5 separate regions of the Homo sapiens genome follow, and all the other regions are reported to be linked to region 5. The links are microRNA targets in miRTarBase. Many come from high-throughput screens and were not tested one by one. Region 5 holds a microRNA gene; each other region holds the end of a gene's coding sequence.
The links. Region 5 holds the annotated microRNA hsa-miR-183-5p (UAUGGCACUGGUAGAAUUCACU, at 1,936-1,957, shown strand). A microRNA usually pairs through its seed, bases 2 to 8, with sites in the 3' UTR of a target mRNA and lowers its output. Matches are read on the target gene's strand: a 7mer-m8 pairs with bases 2 to 8, a 7mer-A1 pairs with bases 2 to 7 and ends in A, and an 8mer does both.

Region 1 (4,294 bases), not on the chromosome of region 5:
AGGACTAGGAGGTAGGCCAGTGGCCCACTCAGACCTGGGGACCTGCCTCAGACAACGAGCAGAGGGGCCTAGCTTCGCACAAGAGCAACCTTCCAGAGGAAAAGTGCTCACAGCTGGAACGGCCTTCAGGAAACAGGTTCAGAGGGTTCAAGGCCAGGTTCCCATAACTTTAAAGACCGTGGCCATAAAGGGTTAATACTGCACAGCCTTCCAGCCAGGGTTTCAGTCAACATTTGCCAAGCACCTGCTTGGGGTTAGAACAGTGGGATGCAGCTGTGAAAGACAGACAGACACAGCCTGGGGCAGACACATCCCAGCCAAGACTGGAGGCAGGTAAGGACGAGTGTCTTCAACTTCTTTGGATTGAGGGCTGAAGGGGCGGGGTCCCCCAGAAAGCAAAACCCACCCAGAAGCCCAAGCAGAACAGGACTGCCTCCTCTGAAGGTGGATGTCACCACTACTAGGCATACACATTTCCTTGGGCTCATCCCTACCCAGAACGGATCATTACAGGAACTGCCTCCCAAACCCCTGCAGAGCTGAGGCCAAGACTAGGCATTCCAGCCCCGAAGCTGCTCCAGGATGCAGTGGCTCATTGCCTGTAATCCCAGCACTTTGGGAGGCCAAGGTGGGCCAACTGCTTGAGCCCAGGAGTTCAGGACCACCCTGGGAAACATAGTAGGACCCTATCTCTACAAAATAACCTTAGCCAGGCATGGTAGCTTGCACCTGTAGTCCCAGCTACTTGGGAGACCCGAGGTAGATCACTTGAACCCAGGAGGTTGAGGCTGCAGTGAGCCATGATCGTGCCACTGCACTCCCGTCTGAGTGACTGACAGAATGAGACCATCTTAAAAAAAAAAAAAAAAAAAAGCTCAGGCTGCGTGATGAGCTCTGTAGGCCCACAATGATGCACAGCCCATAAGAGACATGGTTCTCAAATCCTGGTGTCCTCAGAATCACAGGAAAGCCTACTGACGATGCAAATTACCAAGCTCCAGAGAGTCTAACTCTATCAACTTGGGATGGAGTCCAGAAATTCCAGATGATCCCAAAGCTGAATGAGTCCCAAACCTACACTCTGCAAATCCCTGGCTTACAGCCCCCTGGCTCCCTCTGCCCATCCTTTCTAATCATCCACTTCCCAGACCAGTGGTCTGTAACTACCGTGAGGACTCCTAAGGTGGCACAGAGATGTTTCAGAAGCCCCCAAGAGAAAGGGGTGGCCAAGCTAAGGATTTACACACAAACACACACCTTTTCTTCCCTAAATTTAAAGGGTCCCATTAACGTCTAAGAGTATGTGTGTGTATGTATATATATGTAATTTTTTCTTTTTTGAGACAGGGTCTCACTTTATCACCCAAGCTGGGGTGCAGTGGCGCGATCTAGTCTCACTGCAACCTCTGCCTCCCGGGTTCAAGTGACTTCTGCTTCAGCCTCCTGAGTAGCTAGGATTACAGGCATGCACCACACCGCCCCCACCCCGCTAATTTTGTATTTTTAGTAGAAATGGGGTCTCACCATGTTGGCCAGGCTGGTTTCAAACTCCTAGCCTCAAGTGATCCACCCGCCTCAGCCTCCCAAAGTGCTGGGATGACAGCCATGAGCCACTGTACCCGGCGTTAAATATTTCTTAAACTCCACTGAAACCCATCCCCAGTCAAGCCTACTGCCGTGACAAGGGGCAGGACTGCTGAGGTTGCTCGCTCGCCCTCAGCCAGCGAGTTAAAGGGCCAACTAATGCCAGCTCTTTCCTCTGCGTGCCACAGGGTGGTGAGGTCGAAGCTGCACCGGACCTCACGGCAGCACAGAGCCAAGGAGCCAGGGGCCTTTGGCTTTCAGAGAAGAGAGAAGCAGGAGGCCCTGGAGAGAGTGTCCTCAGCTTCGGTACCGACGCCCTACCATTACCGGTGGGAGCCCAGAGAGTGAGGCCAGGGGCCGGCACTGGGCAGGGAGGCAGGATCCAGAGGACACTGCTTCACTCAGACCAACAGGGAGCCAGGCCCTGCAGGGGCTTTATTTTGACACCACTTTGTTTCAATACAAACAGTCCAGAAAGAAAGTCAAGTCCCTCTGGGGGAGGGGCAAGGGGAAGAGTGGTCTGTGTTGCTTGGGAGCCCAACCTACAACCCAAAGGTGGGGGCTGGGCTGAGACTGCCGGTGCGGCAGGGGAAGATGGCACCAAGAATGACAGTGCTTGGCTCAGCTGCCAGAGGGTGAGGCCCACAGCTCTCACTGGCGGGTGCTGTCCAGGCCAAGCCCAGAATGATGCAGAGGAAGGAGCTCAGCCCCAGGAGCCTGCCTCTGCCTCTCACATCCTCTGCTTCCCTGGCCAGCATCAAGCTCACAGCATCCAGAGTCGAATCACAGCAGACAAGACCCTCCATGGCCACCAACCCGGGGAAGAAGGGATAAAGAATGTCACAGAGGGTCCTGCATTCCACAGCAGATGGTACAGAGGGACCCTGAGACACCCTGAAACAATCTTCCAAGTGCTTACTGTAGAAAGGGGTGGTGAGACGGGAGAACCCAAGGGTCTCCGGTCTGATCCCAAATGAAACCTTTAGGTACCAGGTAAAGTTTCCAGCCCTTGGTAACGCCCAGACAAAGGTCCTTCCCCTCTCCTGGCACCCAGAAGAGGCCACTGGCAGCAGCAGCAGCAGCAAGTCCGCAGCCTCTTTCCCCATGGGACGGGTCTACAGTGAACTCCTTCCAGGCCTCCCCCTGGTTCCAGAGGATGGGGACCCAAGGCCTCGAACTAGAAGAACCCTAGAGCCAGCAAAAAAAGCCTTCTACCTTCCGCTTTCCCTACCTGGGGAAAGTCTGGACCCAGAATAAGCCATCGTGGGGGAACCCCCTTTCCCAGTATGGCAGGATAAGTGAGCAGCAGCTGTGGGGGCAGGACAGAAGGACAAGAGTCTAACACACGGAGGGTGGTGTGAGAGGGAATAAAGGGCTCAGTCCACAGGCAGAGGACAAGGGCTGGTACTGACCATTCCCCTCACAGGAGTGAGCGCCTCAAAGGCCACCCCACACACACACCACACATACGAAGTAACAAATCCTCCCCAGCTTCCACAAGGCAAAGCATCCCCAGCCTGGGAACTGTGGAGTTCTTGTTGCCGTCACCATCGTAAGCCTGAGTCACAGAGCTCGGATCAGTAGGAACCGTAGCGATCCTGGGGGCGAGGGGGGAGAAAAAAAAAAAAAAAGTCAGAGGCTCTAAGCTGCAGCAGCTTCCCAGCAAACACACTGCCTGCCCCAGCACCCCACAGCAAGACTGGGGAGGCAGGGGCTGGACAGCCCGGTGAGGCAGGAGTCCACGGTGAGAGCTGGGGCAGCGGCCACTCGGGCACCCGACAACAGGGAAGCCCTGCCTGGCCTCACAGAAGCTGGGAAGAGAAGAGAAAGAGCGGTACAGGTGACAAGGCCAGGGAAGATCATGGCAGACACAGAGGCATCTTGGAGAGGCCCGGCCCTGGCACGGAGCTGAAAGGAAGGAAGCTGCCCTCCAAGAAAATGCCTCTCTCTAGACTCTTGCTTTTTCGTTTGTGGTTTTTTTTTTGAGACAAGAGTTTCACTCCTGTCACCCAGACTGGAGTGCAGTGGCATGATCTCAGCTCACTACAACCTCCAGGTTCAAGCGATTCTCCTGCCTCAGCATCCCGAGTAGCGGGATTACAGGTGCACGCCATCATGCCCAGCTAATTTTGTATTTTTAGTAGAGACGGGGTTTTGCCATGTTGGTCAGGCTGGTCTCAAACTCCTGACCTCAAGTGATCCACCCATCTCAGCCTCCCAGTGCTGGGATTACAGGCGTGAGCCACCACACCCGGCCGAAAATGCTCTTAAGGCTCAGAGGGGCTGAGCAGTAGCAGTGTCTCTATGTGGTGGCGAAGGGCAAACCTCCCAGCACTCCTCATTAGGCCCCACTTCAGCCTCACCTGCAAGGAATTCATCACACCATTGGCCAGCACAGCCATTTTCCCAGCCACAGACTTGACACCCTGCTTAAACTGGGCAATGTCCGCTGTAGGCAGCACGTTCCCCAGAGATACACTTCCTGTAAAACAAGAGCAGGGTGACCCAGAGCCCAGCAAGAAGCCCTTCCCAGTCACAGCAGGGCCCTCCCGCCCTGCTCCCAGGCCTCACTTGGTGCCTGCCACCCCACCAGGGCCCTACCTGCTCCGTGAGCTCCATCCATGTCCCCAAAGAGGTCTGAAGAGCTGATGGCACTGCTGCCTGAGAGCTGCTGCAGCCGAGACCTGGCCTCATACTGTGGTGAGGAAAA
Region 2 (4,294 bases), not on the chromosome of region 5:
CTATTACACTAAATTTGCATGTAATTGTTTCTCGGCTAGCACCAATAGGACAGACTGTATTTCAGAAAAAAATTCAAGTGAAAAATTAGTAAAATCATTTTGTAACAAATGCTGCCTATGACAAACATTAGCTATAGGACTAAACAAACTTTGGTTTTAAAATGAGCAAGGCAAACAGCAAAAGGTTCAAACACGTAGGATTTTTATGGGGCAAAAATTACTATCAAGTGTTTCAAATTACATTATTTCAAGTGGGTAATCTGATGAGTTTTATATTTGCAAAAGTAATCTTATTCCAATTATCCATATCCACAGTTCTGAAGATGCAGACCACCTGGACACAGGTAGTGACAAGGATGAATTTTTCTGTGCAACTAAAAGTGGTGGGTAGGGGAGGGAGAACCACATACTTCCCTGGTTAATTTATTTCTAAATAAAAATACGGTAAATTTGCTTGCTGATCATGAAATCTGTATTGAACAAACATCAGTTTGACTTACCTGTTTTCATGAGACAGACTATGGTCATAAAAATCACCTGTGTGCTTCAGTTACCTGAATAATTCAAATACTCAACCTATCAACAGAGTAAGCTATATATTTCTCTCAAAAAACTCAGCATTTCTTCCATTAGAGATTACTACATCTAGAAAATTCTAGAGATCACTGAATTTTCTGCCATGTGTATTTTGGTATGAACATATTTTTAAAACTAGCCATTCTTTCTTAATAAACAATTTCAATAAGGCTAAAATTTCATATTAATGTACTTAAAAAGTGAAGAGATACTTGAAAATTTTTATATCAAATATAACCTATCTTTTCAAGTCAATATAACAAGATTAATCTATGGTAATTAATCAACACACTATAGAGTAAGACTGAACTTTCTAAATACTTAATAGAACTTTGTGAATCCCCAATATACTTAAAGTTTGATTTTGTATATTTGACTGCCAAAGCTTTAATAGTGTTAAGACCTAACAATTCATCTTGAAGAATCTTCAACTTTCTGAAAATTTTGGTTTGTATATTTAAGAGTTAAGGCTTATATTAACATTTGGCTTCTATTAACAGATAAAATAGGAGCTTAGAATATATACAAAATTTCAAAACTGATTCCTAAAATTCCTAAATTTCTTTTTCTTTTTTGAGATGGAGTTTCGCTCTTGTTGCCCAGGCTGGAGTGCTATGGCGTGATCTCGGCTCACCGCAACCTCCGCCTCCTGGGTTCAAGCGATTCTCCTGCCTCAGCCTCTCGAGTAGCTGGGATTACAGGTATGCACCACCACGCCCGGCTAATTTTGTATTTTTAGTAGAGACGGGGTTTCCCCATGTTGGTCAGGCTGGTCTTGAACTCCTGACTTCAGGTGATCTGCCCGCCTCGGCCTCCCAAAGTGCTGGGATTACAGGTGTGAGCCACCGTGCCCTGCCTAAAATTCCTAAATTTCTAATGAGTGGCAAACACAGAATTCCATCTATGGCCAACTGAGGCAACAGAAGACTTACTACTGTGTACCTACTTCCTAAAAATTACTCTGAACAGGATTCCCAAGTATGTATACTACAAGGATCCTTTAGGAACTGGTTTACTTCAATAAGGATCATCTCTCTTAATGTCTGATGTTCAATTAGCTTAGAGTAGTGAGACACAATTACTTCAATTCCAGATTTAAATCCCTATCATGACATTAGTAAATTACCAAATCCTTCTAAGCCTGCTATCCTCATCTACAAAATGAGGATAAAATATATAACGAGAGTTTTTGTGAGAATTAAATGACAGCATGCATCACTGTCACGTAAATAGAATTCAAAACTGGCTTTTTACTCACATTTACATTCTTAGTACTCTCTCTGGGCTGGATTTTATTCTTATATTTTCTCTAACCAGTACCCTTTTTGATATATTATTCTCAGAAGTGACCTCAAATCCTTTGTTGATATACATAAACTCCAAGAAGAACCAACCAACCAACCAACCAACCCAATCTAGTTTTGTTCCAGAGTTCACAGTATAAGGAAAAGAGAAACATGTAAGTAAGGGGAACAAAACGAAGAGTGAGAAAACATTTCCGTGAAGAAAGCATTTGAAAGAATTCCACATAGGAAATAGATCCTGAAAAGTTATTTTCATAGTGGTTTAATAGGTGTCACAAAAAGGTATTTTGTGGCAATGTCATTCTTCCTCAAAAATTGAATACCTTCATTTATTTGCCAATTTCATAAAACAGCATTCTGGAGGTCAATTTTTTCAAAGTGATTTAAAAATAAGTAAAACATTTTTAAAAAGAATTAAACTTGAAACAGACCTCATCCACTGTAAATTTTAGGCATTACTATTCCTGAGTGTCAACTATACATATCAAATGATTAAACACCTCCCTCCTGATTTAGTCAAGATATCTGCAGTAAGTAATGTGTAAATGACAACTGTTCCCAAGACTTATGATAAAAGCTTTTAGCATAGATTAGAAAATGAATAAACATCTCAACAAGTAAAATTACTCTTTTCAGCATTAAAAAATAATTTGTGAAAAATGTAGTGAGTGTAATTATGAAGTGTCATATTCATCTCAACTCTAGTTCTAAAATAACCGGACATCATTTTAACCAAGAGAAATGCTGGTTTTCCAAATAACAGGTTACCTTTACCCGAGGTTTAAAGAATAAATATCAGCATCATGACATCACTAGAAAGAAATTGAAGCATACAAGGAATAAACTATAGTTTCTTTTTATATCAAAATGTACTCTTGAAAATGTGTTTGGCACAGTGCTAAATCATATATAGTTAATACTAAATATTGCAGGATACAATAAAACCCTGGAGTTAATTGTTTACACCCTCTTATGGGAATGAAAATAATAGATACCAATTATTCAGAAGTCAGCCTATACAAACTGTATAAACAATATTTTATGTTTTGCTTTGAAAACCAGTGATATAATAAATTTTACATAAAAGACTGTAAAATAATATAAATGGATTTAAACAGATTTTTACAATAAGAAATTCAAATGGAAACAGACAAGTAACAAAGAGAAGTAAAAAAATTTATTGCAGTATTCGCTCCACCAGATTACCTGGGGATCCCTTTTCTTGTATTGTTTTCAGGGTGACCTAATACATCAAAATCTACATTTACAAAAACTCCTTCTGCAGATAGGTCATAGATACTGCATGCTTTTTTTTTTTTCAACAGAATAAATTATATATCCAGGAGATTCTGCCATTTTACAGCCTGGAAAAAACAATGCTTCCCTGGAAACTGGGCTAAGCTAAAGAAAGCCATCCGCTGCTAGGTTAAACTCCAAGAACACTTTATTAAGAACATTAACAGACTAATTTCCAACATTCACTTGTTTATTTTTTTTAAACAGAAAGTTTTTTTTCCAAGATATAAACAATTTTTGTTAAACTATAATACAGTGGGAGTAAAAATGAACTGAGAATCTGTTTCTGCTGCACAACAGCGAAGGGAGCTCCCACAAAAATGTTTGCCCAACATTTCCTTCTTTTGTTCCTGCATCCCAGGTTCCACTTACTCTTCATAAAACTGATTTTTTTTTGCCAGAATGTTGGTATTTCAAGTTTTTCTGCCTTTTAAAAAAATTCCTGTAAATTTGGCTGCATGTACAAATTCATTAGCTGGAAGTCCCATCCTTGGCGGCATACAGGGATCGTAAAGTCTGAACAACTTTATTAGTCAGCTTATTAGCACTCGTTAGAGCAATTTTTTTGTAAATAATGTCTGACTCTTTAATAGTGTCTACCCAAGGCACCAGTTTGCGGCCATCACGGCGCTTAGCCTCAGTCCAGGAGCCACTGTAGGAGCCTGCCATCCACTGAACACTGAAGCCACTGCTGGTTTTCTGCACTACTCTTGCAATTTGTGGTCGATCTTTGTACTTTGGACAGCAAATAGCGATGACATCCATGACGTCAACACTTTCATTCATCTGTGCTGCCAACTCCGTAGAGTCTGAATTTCGTTTTGACCTTCTCAATGACTAAAACATTGGGAGGGGGGAAAAAAGACCAAGTGTTACACAAAAGAATTTTAGTGAAATTATTGTTTTTATTGCTTTTAATCCCTTGACGCCGGGAGTTGGGATTTCCCGGCACACTTCCATTGCCGGCAATGAGACGCACCGTGACCGCCAGCGCCAAGGGGTTAACATATACTTGTAAAACCATATAACTCTTAATTTGTACCCGTGTCTTTACTCTTATTGATATATAAAATTATATATACATATGAACCATATAGCTACATAAAACTTAGCAACAA
Region 3 (4,294 bases), not on the chromosome of region 5:
AAATCACACTGGCTAAGAAAACTGCAGTGGCCCTGCAGGTTTCTCTACAGTACATGCAAATTCCTCCCATTAGTTTCATTGTAATATTGATGAATGCAGATGGACTATATGACTGTATGTTCTGACTGGAAAATTAGATGCAGTCTCCATTGTGACTTATGTTCAGGAGTTTACAATTTAGAGGTAGATTAGGCATATTCATTGAGAGAATTTGATTTTTTAAAATTTGGGGTGATACCATTAATTTGCTGGTTTCAGTGTTATAAACATGCTTTTACTGAAGAATCCAGAACTATTATTAAGTTTCATATTCTCATCAGTTGCCACCACTGAGTAATAGTGTATTACTCTGTTACACTTTGAAATTGAGAGAGAGACTTCATCTCGGTCATCTAAGAGGTCTTAGTGGAACTAAGAATATTAACTGCTTCATTATTAGTTATGTCTTATTCTGAACTAGGCTGTTTAGACAGTAAGGTTTTTAGAAGCAACCTGTGGACACGCACTACCTCTTAAAAACAAGTTGTTTCTTATCCCTTCACCTCCACTTCTAAAGAAAAAAATAGGTGAGGTGTTGGTGGATTGTGGTAATTTACTTTATAATTGGTTGTAGCTAGAAGACACATGTGAAATGTAAAGTTCCTTAACCAAAAGTGTGCAGCTTGTTGATAAAGTTTAGATCTACTGTTACTTCTTGGCACTTTAGCAGAGAAGTTATATGCTGAGGAGAATGAAATACAGAAAGCTGGTCACTTGATTAATTTAGAATGTAGGGAGGATGGGAAGAGATCACCCTGTCCCTCTGATGTCTTCCAAATCTTTTCTGTTAGGTCTGTCAGCTGCTGCTGGAATTGGTGTTGATGACCTTCGTCGCTTATGCATACTCAGGATGAGTTTTGTGAAAGGCTGGGGACCGGATTACCCAAGACAGAGCATCAAAGAAACACCTTGCTGGATTGAAATTCACTTACACCGGGCCCTCCAGCTCCTAGACGAAGTACTTCATACCATGCCGATTGCAGACCCACAACCTTTAGACTGAGGTCTTTTACCGTTGGGGCCCTTAACCTTATCAGGATGGTGGACTACAAAATACAATCCTGTTTATAATCTGAAGATATATTTCACTTTTGTTCTGCTTTATCTTTTCATAAAGGGTTGAAAATGTGTTTGCTGCCTTGCTCCTAGCAGACAGAAACTGGATTAAAACAATTTTTTTTTTCCTCTTCAGAACTTGTCAGGCATGGCTCAGAGCTTGAAGATTAGGAGAAACACATTCTTATTAATTCTTCACCTGTTATGTATGAAGGAATCATTCCAGTGCTAGAAAATTTAGCCCTTTAAAACGTCTTAGAGCCTTTTATCTGCAGAACATCGATATGTATATCATTCTACAGAATAATCCAGTATTGCTGATTTTAAAGGCAGAGAAGTTCTCAAAGTTAATTCACCTATGTTATTTTGTGTACAAGTTGTTATTGTTGAACATACTTCAAAAATAATGTGCCATGTGGGTGAGTTAATTTTACCAAGAGTAACTTTACTCTGTGTTTAAAAAGTAAGTTAATAATGTATTGTAATCTTTCATCCAAAATATTTTTTGCAAGTTATATTAGTGAAGATGGTTTCAATTCAGATTGTCTTGCAACTTCAGTTTTATTTTTGCCAAGGCAAAAAACTCTTAATCTGTGTGTATATTGAGAATCCCTTAAAATTACCAGACAAAAAAATTTAAAATTACGTTTGTTATTCCTAGTGGATGACTGTTGATGAAGTATACTTTTCCCCTGTTAAACAGTAGTTGTATTCTTCTGTATTTCTAGGCACAAGGTTGGTTGCTAAGAAGCCTATAAGAGGAATTTCTTTTCCTTCATTCATAGGGAAAGGTTTTGTATTTTTTAAAACACTAAAAGCAGCGTCACTCTACCTAATGTCTCACTGTTCTGCAAAGGTGGCAATGCTTAAACTAAATAATGAATAAACTGAATATTTTGGAAACTGCTAAATTCTATGTTAAATACTGTGCAGAATAATGGAAACATTACAGTTCATAATAGGTAGTTTGGATATTTTTGTACTTGATTTGATGTGACTTTTTTTGGTATAATGTTTAAATCATGTATGTTATGATATTGTTTAAAATTCAGTTTTTGTATCTTGGGGCAAGACTGCAAACTTTTTTATATCTTTTGGTTATTCTAAGCCCTTTGCCATCAATGATCATATCAATTGGCAGTGACTTTGTATAGAGAATTTAAGTAGAAAAGTTGCAGATGTATTGACTGTACCACAGACACAATATGTATGCTTTTTACCTAGCTGGTAGCATAAATAAAACTGAATCTCAACATACAAAGTTGAATTCTAGGTTTGATTTTTAAGATTTTTTTTTTCTTTTGCACTTTTGAGTCCAATCTCAGTGATGAGGTACCTTCTACTAAATGACAGGCAACAGCCAGTTCTATTGGGCAGCTTTGTTTTTTTCCCTCACACTCTACCGGGACTTCCCCATGGACATTGTGTATCATGTGTAGAGTTGGTTTTTTTTTTTTTTAATTTTTATTTTACTATAGCAGAAATAGACCTGATTATCTACAAGATGATAAATAGATTGTCTACAGGATAAATAGTATGAAATAAAATCAAGGATTATCTTTCAGATGTGTTTACTTTTGCCTGGAGAACTTTTAGCTATAGAAACACTTGTGTGATGATAGTCCTCCTTATATCACCTGGAATGAACACAGCTTCTACTGCCTTGCTCAGAAGGTCTTTTAAATAGACCATCCTAGAAACCACTGAGTTTGCTTATTTCTGTGATTTAAACATAGATCTTGATCCAAGCTACATGACTTTTGTCTTTAAATAACTTATCTACCACCTCATTTGTACTCTTGATTACTTACAAATTCTTTCAGTAAACACCTAATTTTCTTCTGTAAAAGTTTGGTGATTTAAGTTTTATTGGCAGTTTTATAAAAAGACATCTTCTCTAGAAATTGCTAACTTTAGGTCCATTTTACTGTGAATGAGGAATAGGAGTGAGTTTTAGAATAACAGATTTTTAAAAATCCAGATGATTTGATTAAAACCTTAATCATACATTGACATAATTCATTGCTTCTTTTTTTTGAGATATGGAGTCTTGCTGTGTTGCCCAGGCAGGAGTGCAGTGGTATGATCTCAGCTCACTGCAACCTCTGCCTCCCGGGTTCAACTGATTCTCCTGCCTCAGCCTCCCTGGTAGCTAGGATTACAGGTGCCCGCCACCATGCCTGGCTAACTTTTGTAGTTTTAGTAGAGACGGGGTTTTGCCTGTTGGCCAGGCTGGTCTTGAACTCCTGACCTCAAGTGATCCATCCACCTTGGCCTCCCAAAGTGCTGGGATTACGGGCGTGAGCCACTGTCCCTGGCCTCATTGTTCCCTTTTCTACTTTAAGGAAAGTTTTCATGTTTAATCATCTGGGGAAAGTATGTGAAAAATATTTGTTAAGAAGTATCTCTTTGGAGCCAAGCCACCTGTCTTGGTTTCTTTCTACTAAGAGCCATAAAGTATAGAAATACTTCTAGTTGTTAAGTGCTTATATTTGTACCTAGATTTAGTCACACGCTTTTGAGAAAACATCTAGTATGTTATGATCAGCTATTCCTGAGAGCTTGGTTGTTAATCTATATTTCTATTTCTTAGTGGTAGTCATCTTTGATGAATAAGACTAAAGATTCTCACAGGTTTAAAATTTTATGTCTACTTTAAGGGTAAAATTATGAGGTTATGGTTCTGGGTGGGTTTTCTCTAGCTAATTCATATCTCAAAGAGTCTCAAAATGTTGAATTTCAGTGCAAGCTGAATGAGAGATGAGCCATGTACACCCACCGTAAGACCTCATTCCATGTTTGTCCAGTGCCTTTCAGTGCATTATCAAAGGGAATCCTTCATGGTGTTGCCTTTATTTTCCGGGGAGTAGATCGTGGGATATAGTCTATCTCATTTTTAATAGTTTACCGCCCCTGGTATACAAAGATAATGACAATAAATCACTGCCATATAACCTTGCTTTTTCCAGAAACATGGCTGTTTTGTATTGCTGTAACCACTAAATAGGTTGCCTATACCATTCCTCCTGTGAACAGTGCAGATTTACAGGTTGCATGGTCTGGCTTAAGGAGAGCCATACTTGAGACATGTGAGTAAACTGAACTCATATTAGCTGTGCTGCATTTCAGACTTAAAATCCATTTTTGTGGGGCAGGGTGTGGTGTGTAAAGGGGGGTGTTTGTAATACAAGTTGAAGGC
Region 4 (4,294 bases), not on the chromosome of region 5:
GTTCAAGTGATTCTCCTGCCTCAGCCTCCCAAGTAGCTGGGACTACAGGCATGTGCCACCACACCCGCCTAATTTTTTGTATTTTTTTAGTAGATACGGAGTTTCACCGTGTTAGCCAGGATGGTCTCAATCTCCTGACCTCATGATCCGTCCGCCTCGGCCTCCCAAAGTGCTGGGATTACAGGCGTGAGCCACCGTGCCCAGCTGAGACCCTGTCTTTAAAAAAAAAAAAAAAAAAAAAAAAAGAATGGTCTCCTTCATGAGATGTGACATTTAGACTGAGACCTAAAAGAGAAGAAGCTGAGGTTGAGTGGGGTGGCCCGCTGTGGAGAAGGAGAGGGAACAGCACAGGCAGCGTCTGAAACAGTAGCAAGCTTGTCAGGGAACTGAAAGATTTGAGTGGCCCCAGCATCGTGGTCAGTAGTTCAAAGAGCTTTGGTCATGGGGGGAAGTACTTTTCCCTCTCCCATTCTTTCTCTTTTTTTTTTTCTTTTTTGAGACGGAGTCTCGCTCTGTTGCCCAGGCTGGAGTGCAGTGGCACAATCTTGGCTCACTGCAACCTCCGCCTCCCGGATTCAAGCGATTCTCCTGCCTCAGCCTCCCAAGAAGCTGGGACTATAGGTGCATGCCACCATGCCCAGCTAATTTTTTGTATTTTTAGTAGAGATGGGGTTTCACCGTGTTAGCCAGGATGGTCTTGATTTCCTGACATCGTGATCCACTCGACTCGGCCTCCCAAAGTTCTGGGATTACAGGCGTGAGCCATTGTACCCAGCCCCTCTCCCCATTCTTATCACTCCTCCCTGCCCTGTCAGCCCCCCTTTCTGCTTTGCTCATGTCCTCTTACTCCTGCTTTCCTCCTTCTGCCCCCTGTTCCCCAGGCAAGCCAGGAAGCAGACAATGTTCTGATCCTGCAGGACAGGAAGCTGGTAACCGGGCCAGGGAAACGGTATCTGCAGGTGTCCAAGAACCGCTTTGATGGAGATGTAGGTGTCTTCCCGCTTGAGTTCAACAAGAACTCCCTCACCTTCTCCATTCCACCAAAGAACAAGGCCCGGCTCAAGAAGATCAAGGATGACACTGGACCAGTGGCCAAAAAGCCCTCTTCTGGCAAAAAGGGGGCTACGACACAGAACTCTGAGATTTGCTCAGGCCAGGCCCCCACTCCCGACCAGCCAGACACCTCCAAGCGTTCAAAGTGAAGGCCGTGCAGAGCTGGTCACTGAAATGAGCCTGATAGGATAGGCTGGAGCATAAAACTCTGCAAGGGCTCCTCTATCCTGTGGTCCTGAGCTGTGTGCCCTTCTCAGTCTGAGGGGCCTAACCTAGAGCAGGTTTCCATAGTGAGAAAATTCAATGTAGCAGACTACTGAGAAACTACTGTGTTGCTCAGGCTTTGTTTGAGGTCCTGTATATACAGCACTGAAAAGAGAGATAAAGTCCCTGCCTGCATGCATTCTGGCGGAAGAGACAAGCAAGCAATGAACAAATTAGCAGAAAACCTAGTTTTAGTGAAAAATGCTGTAAAGAAAATAGAAATGCGATAGAGTGCTGGCAGGCTAGTGTAGATAAGTGGTCTGAAAAGGTGTCTCTGAGCCGAGGGCATGTGAGCTGGGGCCTAAACAACTAGAAGGAGAGAGCCACGTGAACATCCGGCGAAGGGGACCCAGGCAGAGAGAAAAGGAAATCCAAGCCCTGAGGTAGGAATGAGCAGGTCAGATTCAAGGCAGTGAGGTCAGGCCGCATGAACCTGGAGGGGAATCGGGGACTTCATGCGAAACTCCAGCCTAGGCTTTCAAAGTCAAAGGGTGATACAGTGGGTACCAAGCTCCTCTGCTCCCCACTTTGTAGAGCCTAGCATGAGGTGGCATGTACTAGAATTGGATCCTAGGTGCTTAGCCCTGCAATATCAGGGCCTCACTGGTGGGAGCTGCCTCGGGCTGGGTTGCTTGGTCATAGAGCCATAGAAGGAAGCTGTCAGCCCGGAGTGCCTGCCACCTAGACACTGATGCCATTGTGTGCTGCCTCAAGACTGCTGGAGTCAGGACATTTTATAGAGCCTTTTCCAGTTTTACTAAAAAATTTTTCCATTGCCTTTGTTTCTGTGCTTTTTCTTATTCATCCACCAGGTGTCTCCCCAGTCCGTAGCTGAATTTCCCTTTCGGGATTGGGAATGGACGGGTCCCCTCCCACTGCTTGCAGCCTTTGAGCGGTGGGCTTCCAAGGAAGCAGGGACATTAAAGGGCCTTCACACCCCACCTTCCATTTACATCTCTTCTTGGCCTAGGGAAGACAAGATGATCTGTCCTCATACCTAACTTCCCTGAGGATCTCGAGTGATTCCTGGCACAGGTACTCATCACTGGGCCACATGAGCCCAGTGCCCTGCCTGACTGGCCATTCCTCTGTGATGTGAGCCACTCACCTCTCAAGTGGACTTAGACTCAACATATTCTGTCCACCCCCATCCATCTCCCTCCTGTACCCTCTCCGTGTTTCTCATATGCTAATGCGTGCCAGAACTCCTGGGGACTTGTGAAAAATGCAGAAACTAGGCCCCATTCTCCCCCCATCCTCCACCACGTACATTTCTCATTCTGGATTTGAGGACGGGTACAGTAATCCTCATTTTTAACAAGCCGTGGAGGAGACTGTAAAATAGGTGACCCAGAGGGACTGTCAGAAGTATTCCTAAATGATGACACCTTCTCATCTCTCGTCCTCTGATATCCCAAAGTCCCAGTTTCCCTTTGGATTTGCCTGAAAGAGTCGTGAGAATGCAATATGTTCTGAGGGGGCTGGGGAGAATCCTTTTGTAAGGGTTGGGGGAAGGTTTCCTGCTCCGTTTGGAAGCAGGGCTGCCTTGTCAGGCTCTTCCTTTCAACCTATGAAGGGGCTTCTGGGGCCGATGGAGGGGTCTGTGGTCTCTGGAGTGTGAGAACTCTGGTCACAAATGTCTCCTGAAACATCCGGAGCAAGGCTGCTGGAAAGCTGCTCTCTGTGAGGAAGAACCTGGGGGGGTGGGGAGAGCTCCTCCAGGGCCTCCCTTCTTGGGGGTCTCTCCCAGACTGGCTGGAGCCAGGCCTCCCTAATCCCGCAGTAATCATTCCCAGCCGTTGGCTGGTCTAGGCCTCATCCAGAGTCTGTAACGCTGAACGGCAGCCATGCCTTCCAGAGGCACAATACCATATCAGTCATACCTGTAAGGATGTGGGTTCCACATTCCTGTCTCCCTAGAATGCCTGGTGGGTTCTCAGGAGATCTTTTAGGGGTTTCCAGTAGGGGACCTTTGTGAGGTCTCTGTGAACTGGGGATAGAGGGATAGATACAGACTTGGCTGTTTGTCTTGCCCCACCCTTCTAGCAGACACCCCCACACAGCACAAACCAGAATGATGAGGGGGAGGGGAAGCTAATACTCCCCCCAGCCCTACCCGCTGCACAAACACGTTCTATTCCATACCTGCCTTAAATACCCCATATCATGATTCCACCCAGTCTGTTCAGATCCCTGGATTCTAGAAAGCAGTGGGGGGTCCCTAGGGCCTGTGCGGATTCCCTGGGATAGGACTGGTCTGTCTACACCCAACTGGATGTTAAGAATCTCCCTGACTCACAGGTTCGGTGGATTGGGAGGAAAAAAAAAAAATTTCCCTGAGATCTCAGGAAAGGCCTGGCTAAGCCAGGTCCAGTTGGATCTACAGCCTTGTCCTCTAATTGATAATGTATGTCACACTTGGCCATGAGGGGACAGCTTTGGTCCTCTGGCAGCTTCCTCTCTGCTGTGGATGGGTTTAAGAAGAAACAACTCGGCCGGGTGCGGTGGCTTACGCCTGTAATCCCAGCACTTTTGGAGGCCGAGGCGGGTGGATCACGAGGTCAGGAGTTTGAGACCAGCCTGGCCAATATGGTGAAACCCCGTCTCTACTAAAAATACAAAAATTAGCCGGGCGTGGTGGTGCGCGCCTCTAGTCCCAGCTGCTCTGGAGGCTGAGGCAGGAGAATCGCTTGAACCTGGGAAGCGGAAGTTGCAATGAGCCAAGATCGTGCCGCTGCATTCTGGGCGACAGAGCGAGACTCCGTCTCAAAAAACAACTCACCGAGGTCTCCTGTAGCCCATATGGGCCAGATACCTGTAGACCTTCCTACATGCTGCCTTGAGTGCCATGGTGGGAGGGAGCCCTTGGGGCCTCCCTGCAATACAGGCCAACTTCCTGTTTGTGCCTGTGGGTGGGACTTTATGAGTCTTCGAGAAGCCCAGCCATGCCCCGTGGGGGTCAGAACCCGCAGGCCTG
Region 5 (4,294 bases):
GATCTCTGCTCACTGCAACCTCCACCTCCCGGGTTCAAGCGATTCTCCTGCCTCAGCTTCGGGCGCCTGCTACCACGCCTGGCTAATTTTTGTATTTTTAGTAGAGACGGGGGTTTCACCATGCTAACCAGGCTGGTCTCGAGCTTCTAACCTCAGGCGATCCTCCCGTCTCCCAAAGTGCGCTGGGATTACAGGTGTGAGCCACTGCGCCCAGCCAGAAGAAAGAAGAATTCTGCATTCTGTTTAATTATCCCAGGGTGAGGCTTCTTGGGAAAGATTTCTCAAAATAGATCTTCCCACCCCCACCCCCACCCCATGCTGAGCTGTCAGGGTGCTATTAAAATGCAGATTTCCAGGCAGGCTCAAGAATCTACATTTCAACAGGCTCCTTGGGTGATGCTTATGGCTACACCCTAAGCAATGTTCATAACTACCCACCCCATACTCTTTGCTAACACCCTGCCATCACCCCTTCCCCTCCCCACCCAAGGCTGGGAAGTCTGGTCTCTCTTCCTTAGTAGAGTTCAGAAAATTGTAGTAAGGGAAACTGAGGCAGAAGGCTGAGGAGTGACTTCCTGAGATCACCACCTCATCAAGCTGGATTGTCCTCTGGGGAGATAGACCAGCTAGAAGGGCAGAGCCCTGTAGTGGGGGTGTGTGGGAGCAGGACAAAGAGTCCTCGGGAGCAGGAAGGGTGGAGCATTAAGCAGTGTCTAGGGGAGAGCGGATGGCTTTGGCCAAGGTACCCAGATGGAGCTCTGAGGTCCACGGGAGGTAGTTCCTGGGGGTAACATCGCCAAGAGGTCTGCATAGTTTCTGGGCCAGGGCACCTGCTCTGACCCTTCCAGGATATTTTCTAGCCACCCTGCCTTCTGGGCCACCGCTGACCTGGAGTAGGCTGAGACTCTAGTGGCCACTCTGCGGAGGCCCCAGCTTGCCTGCCCTGGGTGCCAGCTCCCCAGAGACCCTCCCTCCCACCCTCTCCCTTCTTCCCGTCCTTCCCCAGGGCCTGTGACACCAGAGGCAGGGCCTCCACAGCAACTTCTCTCTAGGCAGCTGCTCTGGCAACCACTGATGCAACCTTCCCAGCCCCTCCCTCGCTCCTGAGCCTCCGCTTTCCTCCGCAGTCACTCCAGAGCCAGCCAGGAGCCACTCCCTTGCTAGAGTGCATCCGTGCCTCCGGCTCCCTCCAAGCCACCTGGGTGGCTGCAGGACTTCTCTTCTGCCCTCCTTTCCTGGCCTTTTCCTGCCTTGATCCTAGGCCGGCAGCAGAGATGCCCAGCCTGGGCGGTTCACAGTCTGGCCCAATCTGGTCTGGTTTGGGATGGGAGTGGGGGTGAGCAGCAGATTCGGTTTGTTCCTGGGGCTCTGTTTCTGCCACAGGGCAGGCTGGGGGGTGGAGGATAATGGAGACCAAAGTGCCTAGGAGCCTGGGCTGCTGGTGTCTGGGCTCAGAGGCTACGAGAGGCATCTTGGATGTCCCACTGGTCACTGCCCCTGTGGCAGGTTGGGTAGAGAGGAGGCTCTGGCCAGCTGCTTGCCTCTCCGAGCCAGAGTTACTCTGGCAAGGAGATGGATGGTCCTGACCCACTCCCTCCCCAGCCTGGAGGCGCAGTCTGGGTGATGTGGAGGGATGTGGGCCTTCAGGTGGAGATAGGAGACACCTTGGTGTGGTCTTCTCCTCTGCAAGGCCAGAAGGTCAGCTCCTCTCCCGCACTGTCCCTGTCTCCTTGAAGGTCATCTTGGGCTGATGGGGCATGTGGATCTTGTGAAGAGGTGGGATGGGGTGGGGGGTAGAGACCGTAGCAGCCGCTGCTGAGGGCCTGCTGGGGGGCCCCCAAGGGAGTGGGCAGGCTAGGAGCAGGGAACGGGCATCGTGGGCCGCTGGTCTCTCCGCAGGGTCGGCAGGCCGCAGAGTGTGACTCCTGTTCTGTGTATGGCACTGGTAGAATTCACTGTGAACAGTCTCAGTCAGTGAATTACCGAAGGGCCATAAACAGAGCAGAGACAGATCCACGAGGGCCTCCGGAGCACCTTACCCACTTCTGCCTTGAGTGCTCCTAGACGTCGGAAACAGGCTGCTTCCAAGGGTGCAGGGATGCAAGGCCCCTCGTCCAGTGTGTCCCCAGAGAGCCCGCACCAGTGCCATCTGCTTGGCCGATTTTGGCACTAGCACATTTTTGCTTGTGTCTCTCCGCTCTGAGCAATCATGTGCAGTGCCAATATGGGAAAAGCAGGACCCGCAGCTGCGTCCGCCTCCCCTGCATCCTTGTGTCAGGGCCCCAGCCTGCTCCTCCTCAAGGCCTCCTCACCGCCTCCCCAGCCCATCTGGCTCAGCTGCTGTGTGAGGGCCCAGCGCTGGTGGGCAGCCAGATCGCCTTACACTGCCTGGGGCCACGGTAGAGCTGGGAGCCCAGCAATCTGAGCTGGGCCAGCAGATGGGGCCGCCCAGGGCAGAGGTGGGGGAGTCTGAAACCATCTGTAGGGCCATCCTGAATGGTGCCGTGGGTTGGAAAGGCCCAGCCAGGCTCCCAGCACACGCTTGGGGTGAGACCTTGGCTGGCAGCACAGGGCCTGGTCTTTTCTGCTGCAGGTTGTGAAGGGGGCAGCTCCAGGCAGGTGGGCTGCCCTTGAGGTCAGCCTGGGTGTTTCCAGGGGGGCTACCGTCTCTGGAGCTGTAGCCTGCTGTGGAGTGGGTCATCTCCGAACAGCTCCAAGAGGAGGATACTTAGTGGGGCTCGGAGTTGGAGGGCATTTTCAGGCCTGCCCCTAGAAGGTTCTGGAGCAGAGGCCAATGTTCCCCTTCACACACCACACACTGGTAATGTAGCTTCCTGGGTCCCTGGATCTGGGCTATGACTAACTGGCCTATGCTCTCCATCTGGGTGTCAGGTGACATTACATATATAATCCCAACAGTTCCCACCTCAGCCCTGTGGGGCTTGTAATTTTTTAAAATAGTTATCTCATAGATGGGGAACCTGAGGCTTTGAGAGGAAAGGCTTGGCTGAAGAGGTTGGTGAGTGGTAGAGCTGGGTCACTGTGGCTCTTCCGCCACCAGCCACACCTTCCATGGAGGCACCCAGGGCCTGGAGGTGTCTCAGCTCTGAATCTACAGGCCTGGGCTCCCAAGGATGCCCCAGATGGCAGAGACTGAGGCTGGGAGGCCTGGACCTAGTCTGTCAAAGCTGGGGAGAGCCTGGCCAGCCAGGCTGGACCCATGTGAAATCTGGTGGTCAGCAATCAAGCAGGAGACCAGTGGCCGACTTGGGACCAGCTGGGAGCTATCATGCCCCAGGTCACTGGGCCAGCCCCTGATGGGGCTGCTTCTCCCCAGGGAGCCTCAGGCAAGGGTTGGTGGACTTAGCCCAGATCAGTGGGAGTCATTTTAGGTGTCTGAGCCAGGGAGTGCCCGGGTGGGGGATGTGTGTGGTTGAAGCTGGCAGCTGGAGGATGACGGGTCCAGTTGACTGCACAGCAGGAACATGGTGACCAGTGCTGCCTGCCTGGGTGCCCTGGGGACTGCCTTGGGTGGGTTGGGCCTTTTTTTTCTTGTCAGTTAGCTATCACCAAACCGCGAGGAGCCCCCAATAAATTCCCTCTGGGGTGTGGTGCCCGTGTTTCTCTACAGAAGCTCTCCAAGCCCCTGCAGAAAAAAGGAGGGGCTTGTTTATTTCAGGATAGAAGGGGACTTCTGCCCTGGTGAGGTGTCCCTGTAGCTAGGTCTCTCTTCTGATGGCCCCAGCTCTCCCTCTGCCCCTCGGAACCTGGCTGGCCTGTGCCGCACCCTGTCTCTGTGCTCCAGTCCTCCGCCCCGGGTGCTTCCTTAGGGCGTCCTGCTGCAGGTCCCATGGGATAGGAAAGAAGGGATTTCCCGGCCTGAGTGAGAATGAGCCCTGGAGGTGGGGTGGGCACAGAGACCCAGCAAGGGGGGGTGGAAGGCCCCTGGCAGTGACCGGTTCTAGAGCTTTTCCCTGGAGCCTCTGGAGTGTCTGGCCAGGGTTCTGCTCCTTCCTGCCTAGCGGGGAAGGCCGGATGACAGAAGCTGCCCTCAGCCCCTGGGTGGTCTGCAGCTGGGCTCCACCTCCTCACACCTGCCCAGGTGGGCGCCTTTGCTGAGCCCCGAGTGCAGGCACTGGTGTGGGGGCGTGCCTCCACCAGGCTTCAGGCCCGGCTGCTCTGGGGCCCTGCTCCAGCGCTCCAGGGGAGGACCTCAGGCCAAAGCTAGTTTCTAGATCTCCTAATTTACCTAGTTCCGGGCCAGACCTGGGTGGTGAGTTCACCCACAACAGTG

Region 1: miRTarBase lists ARFGAP2 as a target of hsa-miR-183-5p. Seed matches in the 3' UTR shown: 7mer-A1 at 2,870-2,876 and 7mer-m8 at 2,179-2,185.
Region 2: the mRNA of NIPBL is a reported target of hsa-miR-183-5p. The part of its 3' UTR that is shown has no 7-base or 8-base seed match.
Region 3: the mRNA of SMAD4 is a reported target of hsa-miR-183-5p. Seed matches in the 3' UTR shown: 7mer-m8 at 1,504-1,510 and 7mer-A1 at 4,040-4,046.
Region 4: miRTarBase lists TWNK as a target of hsa-miR-183-5p. The part of its 3' UTR that is shown has no 7-base or 8-base seed match.

What each region holds. Positions count from the first base shown.
Region 1 is chr11:47,162,321-47,166,614 of GRCh38, forward strand. ARFGAP2 (ARF GTPase activating protein 2) reads right to left here. Exons shown (of 16, transcript NM_032389.6): 14 at 4,186-4,279; 15 at 3,948-4,066; 16 at 1,981-3,182. The coding sequence ends at 3,162. It also overlaps a transcript of CSTPP1 not described here. Among named protein-coding and RNA genes, the nearest start is that of ARFGAP2, 12 kb to the right of the region's middle.
Region 2 is chr5:37,064,246-37,068,539 of GRCh38, reverse strand. It overlaps NIPBL (NIPBL cohesin loading factor), which reads right to left. Exons shown (of 47, transcript NM_133433.4): 47 at 2,127-4,013. The coding sequence ends at 3,648. Among named protein-coding and RNA genes, the nearest start is that of CPLANE1-AS1, 180 kb to the left of the region's middle.
Region 3 is chr18:51,077,426-51,081,719 of GRCh38, forward strand. It overlaps SMAD4 (SMAD family member 4), which reads left to right. Exons shown (of 12, transcript NM_005359.6): 12 at 831-4,294. The coding sequence ends at 1,042. Among named protein-coding and RNA genes, the nearest start is that of SMAD4, 49 kb to the left of the region's middle.
Region 4 is chr10:100,992,309-100,996,602 of GRCh38, forward strand. TWNK (twinkle mtDNA helicase) reads left to right here. Exons shown (of 5, transcript NM_021830.5): 5 at 882-2,095. The coding sequence ends at 1,202. It also overlaps a transcript of LZTS2 not described here. Among named protein-coding and RNA genes, the nearest start is that of LZTS2, 5.4 kb to the right of the region's middle. RefSeq lists an enhancer at 3,719-4,294.
Region 5 is chr7:129,772,630-129,776,923 of GRCh38, reverse strand. MIR183 (microRNA 183) reads left to right here and starts at 1,910; the gene lies at 1,910-2,019. MIR96 (microRNA 96) reads left to right here and starts at 2,155; the gene lies at 2,155-2,232. RefSeq lists an enhancer at 2,830-3,691.